Homo sapiens: one gene and its partners. The protein of the gene in region 2 purifies or fractionates together with the protein of the main gene of each other region. This does not show direct contact. Each region holds a gene or a part of one and is shown on either strand. Other genes may lie near its edges. The genes, in order: LMNB2, ARL6IP5, ARPC2, ATL2, ARPC1A, XRCC1 and RTN3.

The links.
Region 1: the proteins of ARL6IP5 (region 2) and LMNB2 purify together in Homo sapiens (affinity purification with mass spectrometry; one large-scale study listed by BioGRID and IntAct). This does not show direct contact.
Region 3: the proteins of ARL6IP5 (region 2) and ARPC2 purify together in Homo sapiens (affinity purification with mass spectrometry; one large-scale study listed by BioGRID and IntAct). This does not show direct contact.
Region 4: the proteins of ARL6IP5 (region 2) and ATL2 purify together in Homo sapiens (affinity purification with mass spectrometry; one large-scale study listed by BioGRID and IntAct). This does not show direct contact.
Region 5: the proteins of ARL6IP5 (region 2) and ARPC1A purify together in Homo sapiens (affinity purification with mass spectrometry; one large-scale study listed by BioGRID and IntAct). This does not show direct contact.
Region 6: the proteins of ARL6IP5 (region 2) and XRCC1 purify together in Homo sapiens (affinity purification with western blotting; one study listed by BioGRID). This does not show direct contact.
Region 7: the proteins of ARL6IP5 (region 2) and RTN3 purify together in Homo sapiens (affinity purification with mass spectrometry; one large-scale study listed by BioGRID and IntAct). This does not show direct contact.

Annotation. Positions count from the first base shown.
Region 1 is NC_000019.10:2,446,960-2,450,459, forward strand, and holds part of LMNB2 (lamin-B2), read right to left. Parts: intron 1-3,500. UniProt on the Homo sapiens protein: Lamins are intermediate filament proteins that assemble into a filamentous meshwork, and which constitute the major components of the nuclear lamina, a fibrous layer on the nucleoplasmic side of the inner nuclear membrane.
Region 2 is NC_000003.12:69,091,437-69,094,936, reverse strand, and holds part of ARL6IP5 (PRA1 family protein 3), read right to left. Parts: intron 1-3,500. UniProt on the Homo sapiens protein: Regulates intracellular concentrations of taurine and glutamate. Negatively modulates SLC1A1/EAAC1 glutamate transport activity by decreasing its affinity for glutamate in a PKC activity-dependent manner.
Region 3 is NC_000002.12:218,237,689-218,241,188, reverse strand, and holds part of ARPC2 (actin-related protein 2/3 complex subunit 2), read right to left. Parts: intron 2,526-3,500; coding exon 2,339-2,525; intron 1,799-2,338; coding exon 1,705-1,798; intron 1-1,704. UniProt on the Homo sapiens protein: Actin-binding component of the Arp2/3 complex, a multiprotein complex that mediates actin polymerization upon stimulation by nucleation-promoting factor (NPF).
Region 4 is NC_000002.12:38,304,274-38,307,773, reverse strand, and holds part of ATL2 (atlastin-2), read left to right. Parts: intron 1-3,500. UniProt on the Homo sapiens protein: Atlastin-2 (ATL2) is a membrane-anchored GTPase that mediates the GTP-dependent fusion of endoplasmic reticulum (ER) membranes, maintaining the continuous ER network. It facilitates the formation of three-way junctions where ER tubules intersect.
Region 5 is NC_000007.14:99,346,398-99,349,897, reverse strand, and holds part of ARPC1A (actin-related protein 2/3 complex subunit 1A), read right to left. Parts: intron 1,047-3,500; coding exon 939-1,046; intron 1-938. UniProt on the Homo sapiens protein: Probably functions as a component of the Arp2/3 complex which is involved in regulation of actin polymerization and together with an activating nucleation-promoting factor (NPF) mediates the formation of branched actin networks.
Region 6 is NC_000019.10:43,555,028-43,558,527, forward strand, and holds part of XRCC1 (DNA repair protein XRCC1), read right to left. Parts: intron 1-3,500. UniProt on the Homo sapiens protein: Scaffold protein involved in DNA single-strand break repair by mediating the assembly of DNA break repair protein complexes. Negatively regulates ADP-ribosyltransferase activity of PARP1 during base-excision repair in order to prevent excessive PARP1 activity.
Region 7 is NC_000011.10:63,688,000-63,691,499, reverse strand, and holds part of RTN3 (reticulon-3), read right to left. Parts: intron 1-3,500. UniProt on the Homo sapiens protein: May be involved in membrane trafficking in the early secretory pathway. Inhibits BACE1 activity and amyloid precursor protein processing. May induce caspase-8 cascade and apoptosis.

The DNA of each region.
Region 1 (3,500 bases), on a different chromosome or scaffold from region 2:
GAAACCCCGTCTCTACTAAAAAAACATACAAAAAATTAGCCAGGCGTGGTGGTGGGCGCCTGTGGTCCCAGCTACTTGGGAGGCTGAGGCAGGAGAATGGCATGAACCCGGGAGGTGGAACTTGCAGTGAGCCGAGATCGCACCACTGCCCTCCAGCCTGGGAGACAGAGCGAGACTCAGTTTCAAAATAAATAAATAAATAAATAAAATGAAAAATAAAAATAAATAAAAAAATAAAAGCAATGCGGTCCCTCCACCATCCACACACAGGAACATGACCCAGCTGTGTAACGGAGCAAGGTTCTGACACCACAGTGTGGATGCCCCTTGAGGATGTCACACTCATGAGACGCCAGACACAAAACGCCACACAGTGTGTAATCCCATTTCCATGAAATGTCCAGGTCAGGCCAGTGCACAGACACAGGCAGCGGGTGTGTGGGCAGCGGGGCTGGAGAAGGGGACGGGGAGTGACCGCTGAGGGGGACAGGCTTCTTTTAGTGGGGATGAACGTTCTAAAATTGGACACATTGGTGGTGGCACAGCTGTGGAGATATGAAAACGCGAAACCTACGGGTGAGCTGGGTGAACCTTATGAGGCGGGAATTAACTGCTCCGGCTCTGGCGCTGAGGAAAAGGAGGACCGGAGGATGGTAGGCGGAACCAGGCCCAGCACCACCCGCTAGAACGCCGTGATGTTCCCACAGCCCTACAGGGCCAAGGGTGTCTATGCAAGGTGGGTACAGGGTCGGCCTGCATCTGGAGGGCCACACCCCCATGTTACAGGCGAGGCTCCTGTGCAGAGGGCTGGGGGCCTGCCAGGACGCACCCCTTGGCAGTGACCGGGCCTCTTCTGAGGTGGGACCCTCAGCCTCAAACCAACGCATGCTGGGCCATCTGGACAAGTCAGAGTCTCAGGCTGCCCCAGCACCGCAGCTCCAAGTCCCGTCAGCCTACAGTGGGGCGGGATAAGGGTTCCCAACCTGATTTTATGTATGGGAAAACTGAGGCACGGGTCAGTAAAAAGCCGCCTCCTGACCACCGCTGGGTCCTAGACATATCAGGTCTGCGGGGACCAATTGTAGGACGGGGACCCACAGAGGCAGCAGTGCAAAGCGAGCTCCTCCCGCGGCACCCCGGCCACCCCCAAGCCCTCCCTCCCATGCAGGCGATCATCTGGGCCGTGCCCTCCACATCTGTGTCCTGGGAACAGACTTCTAGAAAAACCCAAATCAGGAAAAAGCGGCCAGCTCCACGCTGCAAACAGCTGGGCACCAGGTGCAGGCATGGTGGTGTCTGCCTCTCCCTCAAAGCTCCCAAATACCCCTAACCTCAAGGGAGGGGCTGACGGGACACCCTCAGGATGGGGGTCACACACGAGCTCTCCTGTCCCCACAGAGAGAGAGCTGACTGCGGCTCACGAGGCAGAGGGGCCAGGATGAACAAAACAGCAGAGTTTCCAACAAAGACAAGATCAGCGCCGGGACACACAGGAGCCCGTTCAAGGTGAGAAAAAACAGCAACTCTGCAATGGCAGCCACACGCACAGAGGCATGCTGAGCACCCCCAGACCATGTGCACGGCGGTCCTGTAAGACTCTAATGCAAACCTGGCATGGGGGCTCACCCCTGTCATCCCAGCACTTTGGGAGGCTGAGGTGGGCGGATTACGAGGTTAGGAGATCAAGACCATCCTTGTTAACACGGTGAAACCCTGTCTCTACTAAAAATACAAAAAAATTAGCCGGGCATGGTGGCGTGCACCTGTAATACCAGCTACTCAGGAGGCTGAGGCAGGAAAATTGCTTGAACCCAGGAGGCAGGGGTTGCTGTGAGCCAAGATTGGGCCATTGCACTCCAGCCTGGCGACAGCCAGACTCCACTTCAAAAAATAAAAAGAAAAAGAATCTAATACCATATTCTTACTGCACCTTTCTTGTGTTTATTTACTTATTTTGAGACAGAGCCACACCCAGCCTGGAGAGCAATGCCGCAATCACAGCTCACTGCAGCCTCAAACTCTGGGCTCAAGCAATCCTCCTGTCTCAGCTGCCCCAATAGCTGGGACTATAGGCACACATACTACTATGCCTGCCTAATTAGTTTCTAACTTTTTTTTTAAGAGATGGGGTCTTGCTATGTTGCCCAGGCTGGTCTCAAACTCCTGGACTCAAGCAATCTGCCTGCCCCAGCCTCCCAAAGTACTGGGATTATAGGCGGGAGCCACCGCACCCAGCCCTTTCTCGTGTTTAAATGCTCACATACTTACCATTGTGTAACCGGTGCCCACAGCATTCCACAGAGGAGCGGGCGGTGTGGGTCTGTGGCCTAGGAGGCCACGCCCAAGCCTGGGTGTGTGGTGGCTTCCACCATCCGGGAGTGTGGGAGTGCACTCTACCATGCCCACACAAGGGGCACGTCTCCTAACGACACGCTTTCCACAAGGTATCCCTGTCACTAAACGACACCTGACTTGAATTAATAGTTTGTTCATTGTAGATTTTTTGAATTAATTGATTTTTAAAAGATAATCCATTAGGGCCCGGTGCGCTGGTGCATGCCTGAAATCCCAGCACTTTGGGAGGCTGAGGCGGGCGAATTACTTGAGGTCAGCAGTTCGAGACCAGCCTGGCCAACATGGTGAAACCCTGTCTCTATTAAAACACAAATTAGCTGGGTGTGGTGGTAGGCGCCTGTAATCCCAGCTACTCGGGAGGCTGAGACAGGAGAATCACTTGAACCCGGGAGGCAGAGGTTGCAGTGAGCTGAGATCACGCCACTACGCTGCAGCCTGGGTGGTACAGAGAGACCCTGTCTCAAAAAAAATATACATATGTCTGGGCGCCGTGGCTCACGCCTGTCATCCCAGCACTTCGGGAGGCCAAGGCAGTTGGATCACCTGAGGTCAGGAGTTCGAGACCAGCCTGACCAACATGGAGAAACCCTGTCTCTACTAAAAATACAGAATTAGCCGGGCATGGTGGTGTATGCCTGTAATCCCAGCTACCCAGGAGGCTGAGGCAGGAGAATCGCTTGAACCAGGGAGGCGGAGGTTGTGGTGAGCCAAGATCACGCCACTGCACTCCAGCCTGGGCAACAGAGTGAAACTCCGTCTCAAAAAAAAGAAAATAAAATACATATACATATACATATATATATACACATATATATATATATTCCATTAAAACATTACTCATCCCATCGCCCCAGCGTGACGATGAGCAAAACAACACACAAACCCCCATTGAGGAACATCCTACTGCACACCTGCCCAGCCCGCTCAGGACCAACCAGAACCTCTAACCAGGAACGTGGGGGAAACTATCAGCCTGGAGGAGCCTGGGAGACAGTGACGTAGTCACTAAATGTCACGTGAGATAGTGGATGGGGTCTTGGGGCAGGAAAGGACATCGGGGAAACTGAGGAAGTCTGAATACATGATGGATGTTGCTGGGAGCAGTGGCTCACAGCTGCAGTCCTACAACTTTGGGAGGCTGAGGC
Region 2 (3,500 bases):
AGTAGCTATGTCTATAGTTTTACCACAAGTTACTGAAAGGGGAAAAAAAAATCTCACAAAATTTTAGAGCTAGGAAGGATCTTGCTAACCCACCTCATTTTACACGTAAGCAAGCTAAAGAATATACAAGTTAATAAATTTGTCCAAGGCCACCAATTGCAAAGTTGGCAATAAAAGTTTGCCATAACAGAAATCCTCGGATCAACTCAAGGCCACATTTGGTGACTCCTGTCAGGCTGCAAGGCCAAAAAGAACCACCAAAGAGGCAGCAAAATATTTCCTGAGGAGTACAGGCAGCTTTGCACTGAGTTCCAATTTTCTAGCCGAAAAAGCTATTTTTGAAGTGTGGTTTCTGAGGAAGGCTGACTCACCGAAAAAGTGGGGAACAATATACTCACGGTGGACTTCTCTAAATTGGCGATGTTTCTCTGTGGTCCTTAATCAGCCAGAGGGATCACTGCAAATATGAACCCACCCAACCATTTTCTTTTCATTGTTCTTAAACTAAAAACAGAATTCTTTAAACATTCTACAAGGCTTCGCAGGGTCTGGCCCCTGCCTGCCTCTGCAGCCAGGGCCACTGTATATAGGTGTGGAGTTGGTGCCTGGCTGAGGGGGTAAGTGGGGCCTGGAATCCAGGTCACACACTCCACAAGCCAAGGCCAAAATTTGGCTTTGGCTGTAACTGCTAGGAGAGGAAGAAGTGCCTTAGTAATTAGCATGAGGGAACTCTCAGGGCTAGCAGCTGGCCTACCTGCCAGGTTTGTCACACCATCTCCTGATTGCACCCCCATCCACTCAGGGTTTCTATCTACCCCAGAACTCACCTTGCCTTTTGCCATCTCAGGGTGAGGTGAATCAGGCAGAGAGGATACTTTGCACACAGGCCTCACTCCACCCTCCTTCAAGTCTCAGCTCAGCCAGCCTTTCCTCAGTCTCTCTGACCAGAGCACAGCTCCATATGCCTTTTCTTTTCTTTCCTCAAGAAAGGTTCTTCCTCTGTCACTCAAGCTGGAGTATGATGGCATGGTCATAGCTCACTGCAGCCTCTTTCTCCCACACTCAAGTGACCTTCCTCAGCCTTCTGAGTAGCTGAAACTACAGACTACAGGTGAGTGCCAGCTTGCCTGGCTAATTTTTAATTTTTTTCTTTTCTTTTCTTTTTTTTTTTTTTTTGAGACAGAATCTCCCTCTGTCGGCAGGCTGAAGTGCAGTGACACAATCTTGGCTCGCTGCAACCTCTGACTCCCTGGTTCAAACAATTCTCCTGCCTCAGCCTCTCCAGTAGCTGGGATTAAAGCATGCGCCACCACACCCAGCTAATTTTTACATTTTTAGTAGAGACGATGTTTCACCATGTTGGCCAGGCTGGTCTCGAACTCCTGACCTCAAGTGATCTGCCTGCCTCAGCCTCCCAAAGTGGAGAGCTATTTTTGACTATAGGCATAAATGTGGGCTTTGGACACAAATTCGTCTTGAGTAAATGAGAACAGTGTCTCCTTGGCCTAAGGATCATGGAATAAAGGAGACTGTACAGTAGGTAAAACTGAACAGGAGCCTGTCTCTTTTGTTACAGAAAGGTCATAGTGAGATTTTCCTAACCAACTGAATTAGGAAGGCCTAGAGGATTTATTGTATTCTTGCCATTCCCTAAATATTTACTGTATCCTGTGTAATTTGGCACAAATTAAACACTCGCATCCAAACCAACCATTGTCTTTTTAACAGTTGGCATGTTAAAAGTGTTCATACTAAGACATGCCTTAGGAACCTCCAGATTTTCTTTTGTTTTTAATAAACAACAGGTTGGACTCGGATTAGAAACCATAAATCTGACGCTTCCCACAGTGACGGAGCTTCAAATAATAGTTGTGTACAAAGCTCTGATTAGACTTCATAAAACCCTTTTTAACTTTTCATTATGGAAAACTAACATATACATAGGTAGAGAGAATAATGTATAATGAATCTTCATGTATGCTCATCACTGCTTTCACAATTAGCAACCCATGGTTACTCTTAACAACCAATACTTTTTGGGGAACAGAAGTGGAAAGATATTTGTTTACAAACTGTTCTTCTTGAATGATTTTAGAAAATTAAAAAAAAAAAAAAAAGGCTGGGTACAGTGGCTCACACCTGTAATCCCAGCACTTTGGGAGGCTGAGGTGGGGGGATAACTTGAGGCTAGGAGTTCGACACCAGCCTGGCCAACATGGTGAAACCCCGTCTCTACTTAAAAATACAAAAATTAGCCAGGCATAATTGTGTGTGCCTGTAATCACTTAAAAATACAAAAATTAGCCAGGCATAGTTGTGCGTGCCTGTAATCCCAGCTACTTGGAGGCTAAGGCAGGAGAATCGCTTGAACCTGGGAGGCAGAGGTTGTAGTGAGCCAAGATCCTGCCATGGCATCCAGCTTGGGCGATGCAGAGAGACTCTGTCTTAACAAAACAAAACAAACAAAAGCTACTGAGAACTGTCACATGGCAAATTCTTACAGAGCTGTGGAGAGAAGACAGGGGCTGGACAAATGCTAACGAGCTTGGTAACACAGACTTCCTTCTCACAAGTTTCCTGTCTATTTACCCCTCACTAACCCCCAATTTCTGCATTCTTTTTCCTCTGAGACAAGGAGAAGCTGCACCAATGAGATATGAAGCAGATTAGAAGAAGCAGGGCTTTCTGCCTTCCAGGTGTCTCCTTTAGCAAATTGCATAACGAGAAGGAAGGCCAGGAAATCCTATCATATATCAATGATGAATGCTTGCAAACCTGAAGTTGTTAGCCTGAAGGTTTTGCCTAAAATTACAGGGCTTGAAGGCATTCTCAGAAACAGGAAGCCACGCTCATTTCAAGAGACAGAGGATGGTATTAAGGGTGAAGGCATTCTCAGAAACAGGAAGCCACGCTCATTTCAAGAGACAGAGGATGGTATTAAGGGTTAAGTTTTCTGAAGCTGAGTGATAAGGATAGAATTCATTTGTCCAAAAAATAAAAAATACAAAATTTCCAATATTGATGCTTAATTAGATATTAAGTGGGTAGGTCAAGAATGGGTCTTGACCTTTTTGAACTGGATTTCCTGTACAGAGCTCTCTGTCCCTAAGCTGATGGAGAGCTTCTCCTTTCTAAGACAGGGGGCCAGGAATCCAAAATACACTCATTTATTTGCACACTTACCTAGAATCATTGTAAATCCTTACCTAGGGAAAGGAAACAGAAACTACCAACCAAAGGCCAAAAGTAGCAGGCAACATTGAAAAAAAAAAAAAAAAAAAAGCTGGACGGAGAGGGGAGAGAAGTTCAGATAAACAAAGTTACATAAATAGTATCAAAGGTGTGCCAGCCATACCTCTCGCCTGTCATCCCAGCACTTTCGGAGACCAAGGCAGGAGGATTGCTTGAGCCCAGGAGTTCGAAACCAGCCTGGGCAACATGGCAAAAACCCTTCTCTACAAAAAAAAATACAACAATTAGCCAGGCTGGTGGCACATGCC
Region 3 (3,500 bases), on a different chromosome or scaffold from region 2:
ACTCTATTTGGCAAAAGAGATTCTGCTTCAGAATTTAAAAATCTTTACCACCCTGCCAAGGAACAGAATGAAGGTAGTAACGTTTTCAAAAAATTTTACCATTGTACTAGATTTTGAATGCTGAGCCATCTCAGAAGAAACCAGCCTGAATGTCACTTGACCAATGAACTCTCATGTCCATCCTAGAGGCAGCAACTAACTGGCCAGCAGACTGGTACACAATGACCTGAATGCAACTACACCAAAAATCCAATTACAAAATGCCCTGCTAACTCTCAGGACTCTCTTTTTTTTTGAGTCGGAGTTTCGCTCTTTTTGCCCAGGCTGGAGTGCAATGGTGCAATCTTGGCTCACTGCAACCTCTGCCTCCCAGGTTCAAGAGATTCTCCTGCCTCAGCCTCCCAAGTGGCTGGGATTACAGGTGCCTGCCACCACACCCGGCTAATTTTTTGTATTTTTTTAGTAGAGACGGGGTTTCACCATGTTGGCCAGGATGGTCTTGACCTCTTGACCTCGTGATCCGCCCACCTCGGCCTCCCACAGTGCTGGGATTACAGGCGTCAGCCACCGCGCCTGGCCTCTCATGACTCTTCTTAAGATGAGCTTCTTGTGAGGGAAGTACTCTATGGTGACCCATCCAAACTCAGGCTCAGTCTGTCAGTTCAACAACTCTACCTGTTCATGCGTTATCTACTACCAAATAATTGGCTATACAGTCCATTCTGAAAAGACCTTAGGACCAAACCAAGAGCAGCCACCTTACTAGAAATCTGAGGAAACACAAGAGGTTAGGGTTAGGAAACCTGACAAAGTTTTAGGTCAAAGACCCCACAGTAGGAAGGATGCATAACATTCATTCATAGTTAGTATGTTTAATTCTCAACTTACCCTTTAGTTCTGTCCTGCAAAACTAAACCACTGAGAAAAAAAATATCAGGCTGGGCGCGGTGGCTCATGCCTGCAATCCCAGCACTTTGGGAGGCTGAGGCGGGCGGATCATGAGGTCAGGAGATTGAGACCATCCTGGCCAACACGGTGAAACCCCATCTCTACTAAAAGTACAAAAATTAGCTGGGCGTGGTGGCGCGTGCCTGTAATCCCAGCTACTTGGGAGGCTGAGGCAGGAAAATTGCTTGAACCCAGGAAGCGGAGGTTGCAGTGAGCTGAGTTCGTGCCACTACACTCCAGCCTGGCGACAGAGCAAGACTCCACCTCAAAACAACAGCAGCAGCAACAAAAAATATTCACTGAGTTTTGTGGGAGTTGTCTATTAAATCTTCAACAAATTCTAACGTCAAGGCTGGGCATGGTGGCTCATGCCTGTAATACCAGCACTTTGGGAGGCCGAGATGGGCATCACCTGAGGTCGGCAGTTTGAGACCAGCCTGACCAACATGGAGAAACCCCGTCTCTACTAAAAATACAAAATTAGCTGGGTGTGGTGGTGCATGCCTACAATCCCAGCTACTCAGGAGGTTGAGGCAGGAGAATTGCTTGAACCTGGGAGGCGGAGGTTGCAGTGAGCCGAGATCACTCCATTGCACTCCAGCCTGGGCAACAAGAGAGAAACTCCGTCTCGAAAAAAAAAAAAAAAATTCTAACATCAGTAGAGTTGCTAGATCTCTTTCCTACGCTCATGGTATGTTTGGGTGCAAAGGTATAAGTCGCCATGCATGGGTTTCCCCCAAGATGTCTGCTCCATACCTGCATGAACACCTTTCCAATGACCACATCGTCGTCATCCTTAAACACTGTGCTGAAGACTACTGTGACTCTGTCCTTTTTAGACTCAACATACCTGAGAGGAACAAAATCCATGAGGATAAGTACAGAATCAGAATGGGGTTTTGTCAATAACTTGATCTACAAGTACATCAGAAGGCTAAAGTCATAAATCTCTTAAATCATAATATAAAGGTGTGCCAAATGAGATGATATTTATGGTCAACAAAGTCAGTGCACAAAATGAATGCCCTAAGAGAGGCAGCAGATGGAAATTATCAGAAGTAGATTTTATTGACTTGTAAATATAACATGGACCTATGGTCACCCTGCCTGCTGATTATCCAGGCTATACTCTTAAACATGACTCAGAACAGTGGTGCCTTAAAGGAAAGCACTGGATTCTCTTTCCACCATCTGTCAGCTCTCAGTATCTGGAGAGTAGGAGGAGTGGCTGATTTCTGCCCTATCATCTACTTCCTGGCTTAAGACATTTTATGAGAAAAACATTTTCACGCAATACAGCTGAAAGTTTGACCAAGCCATATTTCTTTCAGTAAGTGCCATGGTGGTGTAGCAGCCATATCCAGGCTTCAGGACCAAATTCTATACTCACATGGTCTCATCATCCCTATAATGGATAACTGCCCTGTTCTCTCCTTCCTTGCCCTCTTCTTGGAATTGGAAGTATTTTTCAAAGACAGAGGCAAAACAATTTCGCTTCAACATGCCAGCTTGATGCACAATGGAATCCTTGGATGCCGGAAGATTTTCAAGGTCATATAGCAAAGAGACATTGTATCCTGGAGGGAAAGAAAAAACAAGAAACAAAAAACAACCCAGCAGTTACATTTAAAAAAAAAAAAAAAAAAAAAAGCAGCATACTATCTATACCAAGTAAACAGAGACTAGAGGCAACTAAAAAAATCTTTTTTCAGGTTCTATTGACATTTTGTCTCATTATCTGTACTTTTAACCTGGGTAGAATATAGTCTATTTCCATCTATCTCACAGGGCAAAATGAGGTGAAATAAAATCTTAATTTTTATAAGATTCTTGTAAATATATATAATTAATGTTAATCAAAAATTTGAATCAGTATCAAAGATGACTAATTACAAATATGTAATGGGAGAAAGTCAGAACCTGGGAACTCTGATTGGAAATGTACCCTTCTAGACACAGTTGTAAAGGAGCCACATATATTTCTCTGATAGTTTAATGTGCCAAGTATCAGTATGGCCAGCAAATGGGTAGCTTTGTGATAATAAGATAAACCCTTCTACGTGCCACTGCAAACTCTTTATGAGGTGGCAGGGTAGAAAAACCAACTACCTGTTCATACATATACCTCCCCAATAGCTTTTATTGGTATATATTGTACAATTTTTAAAACATTTTACTTCATTTGATCTCCATAACCACCTTTGAAGTCTGCAGGCTAGATAAGGTTACTGTTTTGCAGAGGGAAAAGGAGATTCAAAGAAGTGACGTGACTTGCCAAATGCAGCATGACACATAAGTGTAGGGCACTCTATTTTGAGTCGAACAGAACTGGGTCCAAATCCTAGTCTTGTCATTTTGTGACCTTAAAAAAACTGCTGGGTGTGGTGGCTCACACCTGTAATCCCAGCATTTTGGGAGGCCAAGGTGGGCAGATCACCTGAGGTCAGGAGTTTTGAGAGCAGTCTGGCCAACATGGCAAAACCCTGTCTCTACTAAAATCACAAATATTAGCCAGGCATGGTGGCGGGCGCCTGTAATCCTAGCTACTTGGG
Region 4 (3,500 bases), on a different chromosome or scaffold from region 2:
TTTTTTTTTCTTTTCCCTGTAGAGTTGTTTGAACTCCTTATATAGTCTGGTTACTAATCCCTTATCAGACTAGTAGTTTGCAAATGTCTTCTCCCAGTCTGTGGGTTGCGTCTTCACTTTTCTGATGTGCAAAAGCTTTTTAACTTGATATGATCCCATTCGTTTATTTTTGCTTTGGTTGCCTGTGCTTGTAGGGTATTACTGAAGAAATCTTTTCCCAGACCAGACCAATTTCCTGGAAGGTTTCCCCAATGTTTTCTTCTTTTTTTCTTTTTGAAATGGAGCGTTGCTCTGTCACCCAGGCTGGACTGCAGTGGCGTGATCTCGGCTTGCTGTAACGTCCGCCTCCCAGGTTCAAGCAATTCGCCTGGCCTCAGCCTGGGCGACAGAGCAAGGCTCCATTTCAAAAAAAAAAAGAAAAGAAAACACTGGGGAAACCCTCCAGGACATTGCTCTGGGAAAAGATTTCTTCAGTAATACCCTGCAAGCACATTATCAAGTTAAAAGGTTTTGCACATCAAAAAAGTAGCTGGGATTACAGGCAGCTGCCACCATGCCTAGCTGATTTTTGTATTTTTAGTAGAGACAGGGTTTCACCATGTTGGCCAGGCTGGTCTCGAACTCCTGATCTCAGGTGATCTGCCTGCATCTGCCTCCCAAAGTGCTGGGATTACAGGTGTGAGCCATCATACCTGGCCACCAATGTGTTCTTTTAGTAGTTTCATAGTTTGGGTCTTAGGTTTAAGTCTTTAATCCATTTTGATTTGATTTTTGTATATGGCTAGAGATGGGGTCTAGTTTCATTCCTCTGCATATGGATATTCAGTTTTCCCAGCACCATTTATTGAAGCCACTGTCATTTTCTCAAAGTTTGTACTGAAGTACAACTTCCAGTACTGTGTAGAATAGCAGTGGTGAAAGTGGGTATCCTTGTTTTGTTTCAGATCTTAAAGGAAAGGCTTTCAATTTTTTCCCAGTTCAGTAAGATACTAGCTGTGGGTCTGTTGTATACAGCTTTTATTATGTTGAGATCTGTTTCTTCTGTACCTTTTGAGGATTTTTACCATGAAGGGATGTTGAATTTTATCCAGTGCTTTTTCAGCATCAATTGAAATGGTCATATGGTTTTTGTTCTTCATTCTGGTGATAACGATGTATCACACTCATTGACTGACTGATTGATTGATTGATTGGTGTATGTTGAACTGTCCTTGCATCCCTGCCTGACCCTAGGTGATGATGAATGATCTTTTTAATGTGTTGTTGAATTCAGTTTGCTAGTATTTTGTTGAGGATTTTTGCAACAGTGTTCATCAGGGATATTGGCCTGTAATTTTTTGCTGAGTCTTTGTCTGGTTTTGGTATCAGGGTAATACTGGCCTTGTAGTATTGGTTTGGAAATATTCCCTCCTCCTCTGGTTTTTGGAATAGTTGAGTAGGATTGGTATTAGTTCTTTAAATGTTTGATAAAATTCAGCAATGAAGCCATTAGCTTTCGGGCTTTTCTTTGTTGGGAGACTTTTTATTATGGCTTTGATCTCGTTACTTGTTATTGGTCTGTACGGGTTTTAGATTTATTCATGGATCAATCTTGGTAGGTTGTATATGTCTAGGAATTGATACATTTCTTCTAGGCTTTCCCATTTATTGGCATATAGTTGTTCATGGTAGCCTCTAATGATCCTTTGGATTTCTGTGGTATCAGTTGCAATGTCTCCTTTTTCATCTCTGATTTTATTTATTTGGGTCATCTCTTTTTTTCTTAGTGTGGCTAAAGGTTTGTTGACTTTGTTTATCTTTTTAAAAAATCAACTTTTTGCTTCATTGATCTTTTGTATTGTTTTTATTTCAATTTCGCTAACTTCTTCTAATTTTGGGTTTAGTTTGCTCTTCCTTTTCTGTTTTTTTAAGATGTATGGTTAGGTTGTTTATTTGAAGTGTTTCCTCTTTTTTGATGTAGGCACTTATTACCATATAGTTTCTTAGTACTGCTTAACGCTGTATCCCATATATTTGGTATGTTGTGTTTCCGTTTTCATTTGTTTCAAGAATGTGTTTATTTCTTTCTTAATTTCTTCACTGATCTAGTGGTCATTCAAGAGCCTATTGTATTAATATAATTTCCATGTGTTTGTATAGTTTCCAAAATTCCTCGTTATTGATTTTATTCCATTGTGGTCAGAGAAGATACTTGATATAATTTCAATTTTTTTGATTTTTTTTTTGAGACCAAGTGTCGCTGTTTTGCCCAGGCTGGAGTGCAGCGGAGCAGTCTCGGCTCACTGCAACCTCTACCTCCCAGGTTCAAGTGATTCTCCTGCCTCAGTCTCCTGAGTAGCTGAGACTACAGTAACGCACCACCATGCCCAGCTAATTTTTTGTATTTTTAGTAGAGATGGGGTTTCACCATGTTGGCCAGGCTGGTCTCAAACTCCTGACGTCAAGTGGTCCACCTGCCCTCAAGTGGTCCACCTGCCTTGGCCTCCCAAAGTGCTGGGATTACAGGCATGAGCCACTGCGCCCGGTCCTCTTTCTTTAGTTTCTAATAATACTTGCTTTATATATCTGGGTGCTCCAGTGTTGGGTGCATATATATTTACAATTGTTATATCCTCTTGCTGAATTGATCCCTTTATCATTATATAATGACCTTCTTTGGCTGATATAAATGTAGCTTCTTCTGCTCTTTTTTTTTGGTTTCCATTTGCATGGAGTATCTTTTTCCATACCTTTATTTTCAGTCTGTGTCTTTATAGATGAAGTGTGTATCACCATTTTTTAAAACCCATTCAGCCACTCTGTGCCTTTTAATTGGAGAGTTTAGCCCATTTACACTCAATGTTACTGATAAGTAAGGAGTTAACCTCTGTCATTTTGTTACTGTTTTCTGGTGGTTTTGTGGTCTTCCTACCTGCCTGTCTTCCTTTTAGTGAAGGTGATTTTCTCTGGTGGTATGTTTTAATTTCTTTTTATTTTTTGTGTATCTGTTGTATGTCTTTTGAGGTTACCATGAGGTTTGCAACTATAATATATTTATTTTAAACTGATAACACTGATTGCCTAAACAAACTAAATAACAAGGAAAGAGAAAACTAATAAAAATTCTACACTTTAACTTCATCCCCCCACTTTTTAAACTTTTCGTTGTTTCTATTGATAGTATACCGTCTATGTCTGGAAAAGTTGTGGTTGTTAATTAATATTTTTTATAGGTTCGTCTTTTAGTCTTTCTACTCAGGATATGAGTTGTTTACACACCACAATTATTGTTAATAATATTCTGTTTTTCTGTGTGTTTACTATTCCCAGTGAGTTTTGGACCTTCAAATCATTTCTTATTGCTCATTAAAATCCTTTTCTTTCAGATTGAAGAACTCTCTTTAACATTTATTGTAGGACAGGTCTGATGTTGATAAAATTCCTCAGCTTTTGTTTGAGGAAGTCTTTATTTCTCCTTCATGTTTGAAGTATTTTCACTGGATATACTATTCTAGGAAAAA
Region 5 (3,500 bases), on a different chromosome or scaffold from region 2:
CTGGGATTACAGGCATTTGTGACCACACCAGGCTAACTTTTATTTATTTATTTATTTTGAGACAGAGTCTCGCTCTGTCGCCCAGGCTGGAGTGCAGTGGTGTGATCTCGGCTCACTGCAAGCTCCGCCTCCCGAGTTCACACCATTCTCCTGCCTCAGCCTCCCGAGTAGCTGGGACTACAGGCACCCGCCACCACGCCCGGCTAATTTTTTGTATTTTTTTAGTAGAGACGGGGTTTCACTGTGTTAGCCAGGATGGTCTCGATCTCCTGACCTTGTGATCCGCCCACCTCAGCCTCCCAAAGTGCTGGGATTACGGGCGTGAGCTACTGCGCCCGGCCTCTTTTGTATTTTTAGTAGACACGGGGTTTCACCATGTTGGCCAAGTTGGTCTTGAACTTCCAACCTCAGGTGATCCGCCCACCTCAGCCTCCCAAAGTGCTGGGATTACAGGTGTGAGCCACAGCACCAGGCCTCATTTTTGAGTCCCTCACAGTGCCTAGCGCAGTACCTTGCAAAGAAAAGGAAACTTACAGGCCAGGCACACTGGCTCATGCCTGTAATCCCAGCACTTCAGGAGGCCAAGGAGGGAGGATCACTTGAGGCCAGGAGTTCAAGACCAACCTGGGCAATGTAGCAAGACCCCGTCTCTACAAAGAATAAAGACAATTTTAAAAAAATTAGCCAGGTGTGGTGGCATATACCTGTAGTCCCAACTACTCTGGAGGCTGAGGCTGGAGGATCGCTTGAGCCCAGGAATTGGAGGCTGCAGTGAGCTATGATGGTGCCACTGCACTCCAGCCTGGGTGAGAGTGAGACCCTGTCTCAAAACAACAACAACCACAACAAAACAAAAAACAAAGAAAGAGAACCTAAAATTATTTGTTGAAGGATGAAGAATGCACGGCTCAAGTTTATCAGTTCTCACTGGTTCCCACCTGCATTTGAAGTCACATGATCCTGCTGCCAGCAAAACGTTGTTGGGATGCCAATCCAAGCTGAGGACTGTGGAGCGAATCGGCTTTTTAATGTGCTTGCTCACCCACCTATGAGAGGGGAAAACTGTTTCAGTTTATCCACTCAACCAGCATCCCCAAATGACCTACAAATGTATGTCAGGTGAAAATACCTAAGTAGGCCACACTTTTCCTTAATTTAAAAAAAAATTATAAAACAATTCAGAATATTATTTTTTTCAGAATAAACTTTTTCAGATAGGTTTCTATAAAAAAAGATTCTATAGAAAAGTAACAGAGCATTCAACGTTCTTCTGTCGGTCACCAGGCCTTCTGCCAGAGACAAGGTTTTTTGATACCAGGTTATGATCTGAGACTGGCTAATTTTTGTATTTTTTGTAGAGATGAGATTTCTCCATGTTGCCCAGGCTGGTCTCAAACTCTGGGGCTCAAGTGATCTACCGGCCTCAGCCTCCCAAAGTGCTGGGATTACAGGCATGAGCCACTACGCCCAGCTGACAAGGTGCATTGCTAAAGGACAGAAAGGAAAAGAACCATGAACAGGCCTTCTCCACTCCTGGCCCTGATGTTCTCAGCACAACAGCTGGTTTTCAGCAGTCCTCATTAGTAAGCATAGATATTGATTAACTCAGTTATGTTTTCGTGAGATTTCGGATTACATAGGACGTTAACCTCTGAGATAAAAACTGAAGTTTGAAAATACTTCAATTTTTATTATGAATATTCAGTGATTTGCTGAATTTTTGGTGAATTTGGGGTTGTAAGACAGCTTAATATCCTTCCCAAGTCTCCACGAATCTGCAAATTCTTTTTAATTTCTTTCACTGAAAAATCACAACCAAGAAATTAGAAGAACCTCATGTTGGGGATTAGCCTCTAATTCGCTAGCACCATCCAAAAAAGATGATTTATGTCTAGGACCAGTCAGTATTTTGGCTTAACTAATTCATTTCTGCCCCCAAACTGCTGTTTAAAAACCAATCACGTCTGGTTGCTCAACAGTTGGGAGACTAAATATTGAGCCAATGCCTTTCCTTCAATGCTAAATTACCTTTCTATAGAATCACTTTCTTTCTTTTTTTTTTTTTTTTGAGATGGAGTTTCGCTCTTGTTGTCCAGGCTGGAGTGCAATGGCGTGATCTCAGCTCACCGCAACCTCCACCTCCCGGGGTCAAGCAAGAATCACTTTCTTTTATTTATTTATTTTTTATTTTTTTGAGACAGAGTCTTACTCTGTCATCCAGGCTGGAGTGCAGTGGCGCAATGTCAGCTCACTGCAACCTCTGCCTCCTGTGTTCAAGCAATTCTTGTGCCTCAGCCTCCCGATAGCTGGGATTATAGGCTCACGCCACCACGCCCGGCTAATTTTTGTAATTTTAGAGGAGATTAGCTTTCACCATGTTGGCCAGGCTGGTCTCAAACTCCTGGTCTCAGGTGATCTGCCTGCCTTAGCCTCCCAAAGTGCTAGGATTACAGGCATGAGCCACCACGCCTGGCTACAGAATCACTTTCTTAGTATCCTGTCTGAAGAAGTTCATTCTGAAAAAGACAGCCAGGTGCAGAGGCTTGCAACTATACTCCCAGCACTTTGGAAGACCAAAGCAGAAGGATTGCTTGAGTACAGGAATTTGAGATCAGCCTGGGCAAGAAAAGTGAGAACCTGTCTCCACAAGTAATCAAAAAATTAGCCAGGTGTGGTGGTGCAAACCTGTAGTCCCAACTACTTGGGAGGCTGAAGTGGCAAGACTGCTGGATCCCAGGAGTTGGAGACTGCAGTGAGCCGTGTTTGTACCACTGTACTCCAGACTGGGTGACAGAGAGAAACCCTGTCTCAAAAAATAAATAAATAAATAAAATAAAAAACCAAAATCCCCCACAAAGTCTCTAAAAAAGGAGAAAAAGACAGTATTTCGAATTGTTTCATAATGTATACATATTTTTTGAGACAGAGTCTTGCTCTGTTGCCCAGGCTGGAGTGCAGTGGCATGGTCTCGGCTCATTGCAACCTCTACCTCCCTGGTTCAAGCGATTCTCCTGCCTCAGACTCCCAAGTAGCTGGGATTATAGGCATGCACCACCACACCTGGCTAATATTTTGTATTTTTAGTAGAGATGGGGTTTCTCCATGTTGGCCAGGATGGTTTCGAACTCTTGACTTCGTGATCCGCCTGCCTTGGCCTCGCAAAGTGCTGGGATTGCAGGCGTGAGCTACCGTGCCTGGCCTTTATAATGTAATTTTTTTAATTAAGGAAAAGATGGCAAGCAAAATAATTAGTTCATATGGCTGAATTATAAACTTCTGAGAAGTTGTTTTAAAGTACTCCTATGAAATATGAAATAATTGTTCTACAGCTGAGAAACTGCCCTAAACATACAGCTTGTTCAAAGACAATACCTTGTACCATAATAAAGTCCAATTTACCTATACTTGACACTAATTCTCAACGAATAAAAATGTAAACAATTACTGAGGTTGAAGCTTAACTTGGAAGAAAAGTTTCCTGTAGAAATTTGTAAGATTGC
Region 6 (3,500 bases), on a different chromosome or scaffold from region 2:
CCTTATCTAAATTCTCCCATGGAGTCTTCCATATCTGGCAATACAGCGGGCTACATGTCCTAAGGAACTTTCCCGGCAGAGAATATTCAGTAAACTGGCACAATATTCAAACACCTTTTGGAAATGCACAGGTGAGTCAGCGGAAAGGCAAGGGGAATTACTAGAGGCTGGAAATGAGAAAACAGAATCCAGAGAGTCAGGCGAGCTGCACTAAGTATTAAGTGATTGTTTCTCAGCTCAAACCTACCCTCTACAACTCATCTCTGTGATCTGGGCCCGCACTTGGCAAACCACCTTTCTGCTTCCCTAGCTGATCGTGACCAGGCTCTGCCAATAGGGGGGGCAAGAGAGAGAGTTTGCAAGGCTGCAGGAGGGAGGAAGGACCAGCTTCTCGTGCATTGCAGATCCTGTGAGCATCACCCCCAGTTAAGCTTCTGCTGCTGCAGTGGTTCCTGCCTGCAGCAGCAGATGAATCCAGTTTGCAGTGTCCCAATACCTCCAGAAACAGCCTCATTCAGCCCCTCTCAGCAGCCGGTGGGGGAGGAAGCCCTCCTCAAACGATCTGAATTTCAGCTCCTGGAGCCCCACCTCCCAGTTTCCAAACATCTACGTTTCAATAATTCCTGCTCCTTTCTTTTGTTCCCCCAACCCTGGGAGTGGTAGCTACTCCCTGCGGTTGCTTCTCCCTCATATCTTAGTCTTCTAGTAACACCTAGTTACTGGTTCTTTCTATCAAATTATCTGTTAAAATAACTGGTGTGGTTTTAATCTCCGGGCAAGGACCCTGACTGACCCGGCAGCACTCATGTTGGTAGTTTGTCATGGTGCTGATCCCAGATAGCAAATAACTTGATTTTATTTATTATTATTATTTTTTTAAGAGACAGGGTCTTTCTCTGTCACCCAGGCTGGAGCACAGTGGTGCGATCATAGCTCACTGCAGCCTCGACCTCTGGGTCTCAAGTGATTCTCCCACCTTGGCCTCTGAGTAGCTGGGTCTAGAGATGCACGACACCACACCTGGCTAATTTTTTATTTTTTGTAGAGGCATGGTCTTGCTATGTTGCCCAGGCTGGTCCTGAACTCCTGGCCTCAAATGATCCTCTCACCTCAGCCTCCCAAAGCTATAGAAGTACAAGTGTAAGCCACCACACCCAGCTAGAACTTGATCTTTAAGGGTTATGCACGTGGTGGTGAAAGAGAACAAGAGAGAAAACCTAGGCTCCAAGCAAGGGAGAGTGGCATCTCAGAGATCCTCACCACACTGCATAGAACTGAGGACTCCCCAAAGGCAACGCCCACACTAGTTACATGAAGGGGAAATAAGCCTGTGGAAAGAGTCCCTGGGAGGCCTGTCTGTCTTGGCCTTAGCTTGGGGGGACACCAAAGAAGAGGTGAAAATTCTTCTCGGGAGAACTCCTCACAAGTCTGTTCTCTCAAGGAATTGAGAGTAGCAATTCATGTTAGCAATCTGCATTGAAAAACCCAAGCTGAGGCCAGGCGCGGTGGCTCACGCCTGTAATCCCAGCACTTTGGGAGGCCAAGGCAGGCGGATCATTTGAGGTTAGGAGTTCAATACCAGCCTGGCCAACATGGTAAAACCCCATCTCTACTAAAAATACAAAATTTAAGCCAGGCATGGTGGCAGACGCCTGTTGTCCCAGCTACTCGGGAGGCTGAGGCACGAGAATTGCTTGAACCCAGGAGGCGGAGGTTGCAGTGAGCTGAGATCGCACCATTGCACTTAAGCCTGGTGGACAAGAGGCCAGGAGTTCAAGACCAGCCTAGCCAACATGGTGAAACACCGTCTTTACTAAAAATACAAAAATTAGCTGGACATGGTGGTAGGCACCTATAATCCCAGCTACTCGAGAGGCTGAGGCACAAGAATCGCTTGAACCCAGGAGTTGGAGGTGATGGTGAGCCGAGATTGTGCCACTGCATTCCAGCCTGGGTGACGGAGCAAGACTCTGCCAAAAAACAAAAAACGAAACAAAAAGACTGGGCACAGTGGCTCACACCTGTAATCCCAGCACTTTGGGAGGCCAAAGCAGGCAAATCACGAGGTCAGGAGATCGAGACCATCCTGGCCAACATAGTGAAACCCCATCTCTACTAAAAATACAAAAAAATTAGCTGGGCATGGTGGCGCGTGCCTGTAGTCCCAGCTACTCGGGAGGCTGAGGCAGGAGAATCACTTGAACCCAGGAGGCGGAGGTTGCAGTGAGCCAAGATTGCGCCACTGCACTCCAGCCTGGCAATAGAGCGAGACTCCGTCTCAAAAAAAAAAAAAAAAAAAAAAAAGATGAATGCAGCCACTTTTGGTTGGGTATATTTTGTTACTGACTTAGTCTCTTTTCTAACTGACATGCTGTGAAATTATAAAATTGGACAATAAAGCCTTTTGCTGAGAAAAACAGAACATAACTATAGCTCTCTTTGTGCACAGCTGATTATGCAAAGGAAACAAGAAAGACAATTATACAGAAGGGAAGTTTTCTTCCTGACCTTGACTATACTTGTTTATAAAAGGCCTGATTTGGAGCTGACAGGGAAGCTGCATTTATCATCTGGTGACTAACATGGGAAAACCCTGTCCTACTAAATACAAAAAAAATAGCCATGCATGGTGGCACAGGCCTGTAATCCGAGCTACTTGGGAGGCTAAGATGGAGAATCGTTTGTACCTGGGAGGCGGAGGTTGCAGTGAACCGAGATTGCACCACTGCACTCCAGCCTGGGCAACAGGAGCAAAATTCCATCTCAAAAAAAAAAAAAAAAAAAAAAAAAAAGGAAGGAGGGAGGGAAGGAGGGGAGGGAGAATGGAAGGAAGGAAGGCTCCTGTGACTTTGGGTTTGTGCCTTTGATGTTTTTGAAGAGTAGAGGTCAGTGATTTTTGTCAGATATCACTTATTGTACAAAGTATCTGATGTTTCCTTGTGATTAATTTAGGTTGCACACTTTGGCCAGAATACCACAGAAGTGATGTGTAATATACAGTTTATTTTGTATATTGACTTCTCATCTTGTGACCTTCACTTACTAAACCTTGTAGTTTGTCTAGATCTCTTGGGATTTTCTGCATAGACAATCATGCCATCTGTGAAAAAAGATAGTTTTCTTTTTTCTTTTTCTCACCTTGTCACACTGACTAGTGCAAAGTTGGGCATGGTGGTGCAAGCCTGTAGTCCCAGCTACTTGAGGGGCTGTGGAAGGAGGATCACTTGAACCCGGGAGGACAAGGCTGCAGTGAGCTGAGATCGTGCCACTGCACTCCAGCCTGGGTGACAAAGTGAGACCTCGTTTCAAAAAAAAAAGAGTAGGCCAGGTACACACAGCAGCTCACATGTGTAATCCTAGCACTTTGGGAGGCCGCAGCAGGTGGATCACCTGACCTCAGGAGTTCAAGACCAGCCTGGGCAACACAGTGAAACCCTATTTCTACAAAAAATATTTAAAAATTAGCCGGGCATGATGGCTCCCACTAGCTACTTGGGGGG
Region 7 (3,500 bases), on a different chromosome or scaffold from region 2:
GGATCGCTTGAGCCCAGGAGTTCAATACCAGCCTAGGCAACATAGTGAGACCTCGTCTCTATCAAAATAAAAATAATTAGGTCGGACGCAGTAGCTCACACCTGTAATCCCAGCATTTTAGGAGGCCAAGGAGGGTGGATCTCCTGAGGTCAGGAGTTCAAGACCAGCCTGACCAACATGGTGAAACCCTGCCTCTACTAAAAATACAAAAATTAGCTGGGCATGGTGGCACATGCCTATAATCCCAGCTACTTGGGAGGCTGAAGCAGGAGAATCGCTTGAATCCAGGAGGCGGATGGTGCAGTGAGCAGAGATCGTGCCACTGCACTCCACCCTGGGTGACAGAGTGAGACTCCATCTCAAAAAAAAAAAAAAAAAAAAAAAAGAATTAGCAATATTAAATCTCAAGAATAAGGAAATCCACAGAGTCAGAAAGCAGATTAATAGTTGTCAGAGAATTGAGGGGAGGGAAGAACGGTGAATTACTGCTAACAGATATGGGGTTTCTCTTTGGGGTAATAAAAATGTTCTGGAATTAGATAGTGGAGATAGCTGTACAACCTTGTGCATACACTAAAACCCACCTTAAAATGGTGAATTTTATGGAGACAGAGGATGAAAAGCCAGTGAGAGTGAGTATGTGGTGTCACAGAAGACAAATTAAAAAAGCATTTCAAGGAGAGAATAATCAATTATGTCAAAAGCTGTTGTGAAAGCATGTTAAGAGGAGGATGAAGTGACCACTGAATTTAACAATGTGGAAAATATCTGGTGAACTTGACTAGAAAGTTTCTGTAGAGCAGTGAAATAAAAAGGCACCTGGCTTAAGAACCGTGGAGCCAGAAATTAAGACTTTTAAATTAAACTGATCACTGAATTCAAAAGGGTAACTGAGCCACTTTTACTACATGTTGCTTCAAATCTTAAAGCGTGGGCATTAAACTCTCTGTGCCTGAGTCCCCATCTGTAAGAAGGGGGTTATATCGCTACCTGTCTACCTCACAGATAAACATAATACAAGTCTTTCCTCTATAGAATATGGCCTCTAGAGGAATGATCTATATTTTATTTACCTTTCTGTCTTCCACAGCACCTGGCAAAGAGCCTTCATGTATGCTCAGTTGTTGAATTAAGGTAACATATGGGCACAACTTAAATCATAAAGCAGTACACAAATGTAAGATATCGTGAAAATCAAGTACTTCTATCTCATACGTAAAATAAAGACAATGCCCTCCACTGAAATATGTTCAAATAACAGGACACAATTTTCATAACAAAAGGTTTTCCAGAATGTCCTTCCATATATCTTGAAGGGCGAGCTACCAATGAGGAACAGGTCAAAAAGCTCACCGTTCCCTCTGGTTAAGTTATGATGATATGGTTACAGGAGATAATAAATCAGTTGATTGGAGAAAACAGGTAAGAATAGTTCTTTGAGACTGGGTGTGGTGGCTCACATCTGTAATCCCAGCACTGTGGGAGGCCGAGGCGGGGGCAGTTCACTTGAGGTCAGGAGTTCGGGACCAGCCTGACCAACATGGTGAAACCCCATCTCTACTAAAAATACAAAAATTAGCTGGGCATGGTGGCACAAGCCTGCAATCCCACCTACTCAGGGGGCTGAGGCAGGAGAATCGCTTGAACCCGGGGGGCGGAGGTTGCAGTGAGCAGAGATCCCACCACTGCACTCCAGCCTGAGCAACAGAGGGGGATTCTGTCTCAAAAAAATAGTTCTTTGAAATAAAAAAAAAAAAATCAAAAATCACAAGAGTGGGCCACTTGCTGATAAGCTCACTGTCTTCTCTGGTTAGGTTACAATGATATGGTTATAGGAGATAATAAATCAGTTGATTGGAGAAAACAGGTAAGAATAGTTATTTGAAATAAAAAAAAAAAATCACAAGAGCAGGCCACTTGCTGATAATCTTCTCCCATACGTAAAATGGAAATGCAAACCCCGTTACAGTATTTAAAGAGATTCTCTCTGAGGTTGCAATATCACAGAGTAACATGTCTTACAAAACTCACAGATGCCCAGAAGACTTCAATGATGCAATCACAAGCAATACTGATTACAGCTAAACTTATTTAACACACACACTTCTTTCAAAACATCAACACCATACCCTATGATCCAAAATAACTCTACAACTAGTAGCTGTCATAAATGAACAGAATAGAAGGTTAAGTCAGTTTTCTGGGCAACTTCTGAATAAGTCAATTATAAGAACAAAATATCGACCTGCTAATTTTTGTCTAAAAAGTTTTACTATGAGTGCTTACTTCAGCAGCACATATACCAAAATTAGAACAATACAAAGAGTATTAGCTAAATTAAGAGAAAAAGTTATACTACAAAATTGATGAATTTTTCACAAGTTTGTATACTTTAGGAGGCTAAATTCATCATCAACAATAAAGTTAACACAAACTATAAGCTAAGTGCACACAACAAATATGCACATTTATATTAGAAAACCTACTTACTTAATGAAGCCTTTGTAATTCTGTTCAGAATTACAAAAATGGTAAATTCTAGGATTATGGGTAAAGAGAAGTGTCTTTCTGCAAAATATACTCTTGACTCAAACAAAATTGGAAAGCTCAACTTTCCCTTTTCCCTTCAACCAGACGTCACCAATTCCTTCATGACCAAACTTCATTTTACAAGGCTTGAAACATGCACAGGACTAGACAGGTAACTCCTATATCAGGATAAATATATTATTTCCTCACAGGATAATTTGATAAAAGCAGTAATATTGGTTTTTATTTTCAGCCCATCTTTAAAACACCAAGAATAAAAACACTGAGGTTCTTACCAGCCACTTAATGAACAACCCCTTAGAAATGACAATTTAGGGTAAGGGTGCACCTACTAAATGTATGTAGATTGGTTGTTTAATTTGATCAGAGTGGTTCCATTACTTGTGAATTTGACAATAAACAAAAACAGCATTAAAAAAAAACTTCTTGGCCGGGCGTGGTGGCTCACGCCTGTAATCCCAGCACTTTGGGAAGCCAAGGCTGGCGGATCATGAGGTCAGGAGATCAAGACCATCCTGGCTAACATGGTGAAACCCTGTCTCTACTAAAAACACAAAAAATTAGCCAGGCGTGGTGGTGGGCACCTGTAGTCCCAGCTACTGGGAAGCTGAGGCAGGAGAATGGCATGAACCTGGGAGATGGAGGTTGCAGTGAGCTGAGATCGCACCACTGCACTCCCGCCTGGGCGACAGAGCGAGACTCCGTCTCAAAAAAAAAAAAAAAAAAGCAAAACACACTTCTTATTCTTGGAGAATAAAAACAATCCAAGTCAGCAGGCATTTGCAGGCCATATTGACATGACCATTCTTGCTGTCTCCTGTATGCTTGCCTCTGTGCTGAAAGGGGTTTCCTAATGTATCATAACAACATTTATTAGTCAGAATCTGCATAAGTATTTAAGCATATTGATTCATGCCAAGCCTTCTGGGAAACATCTTGACTCCTCCCTC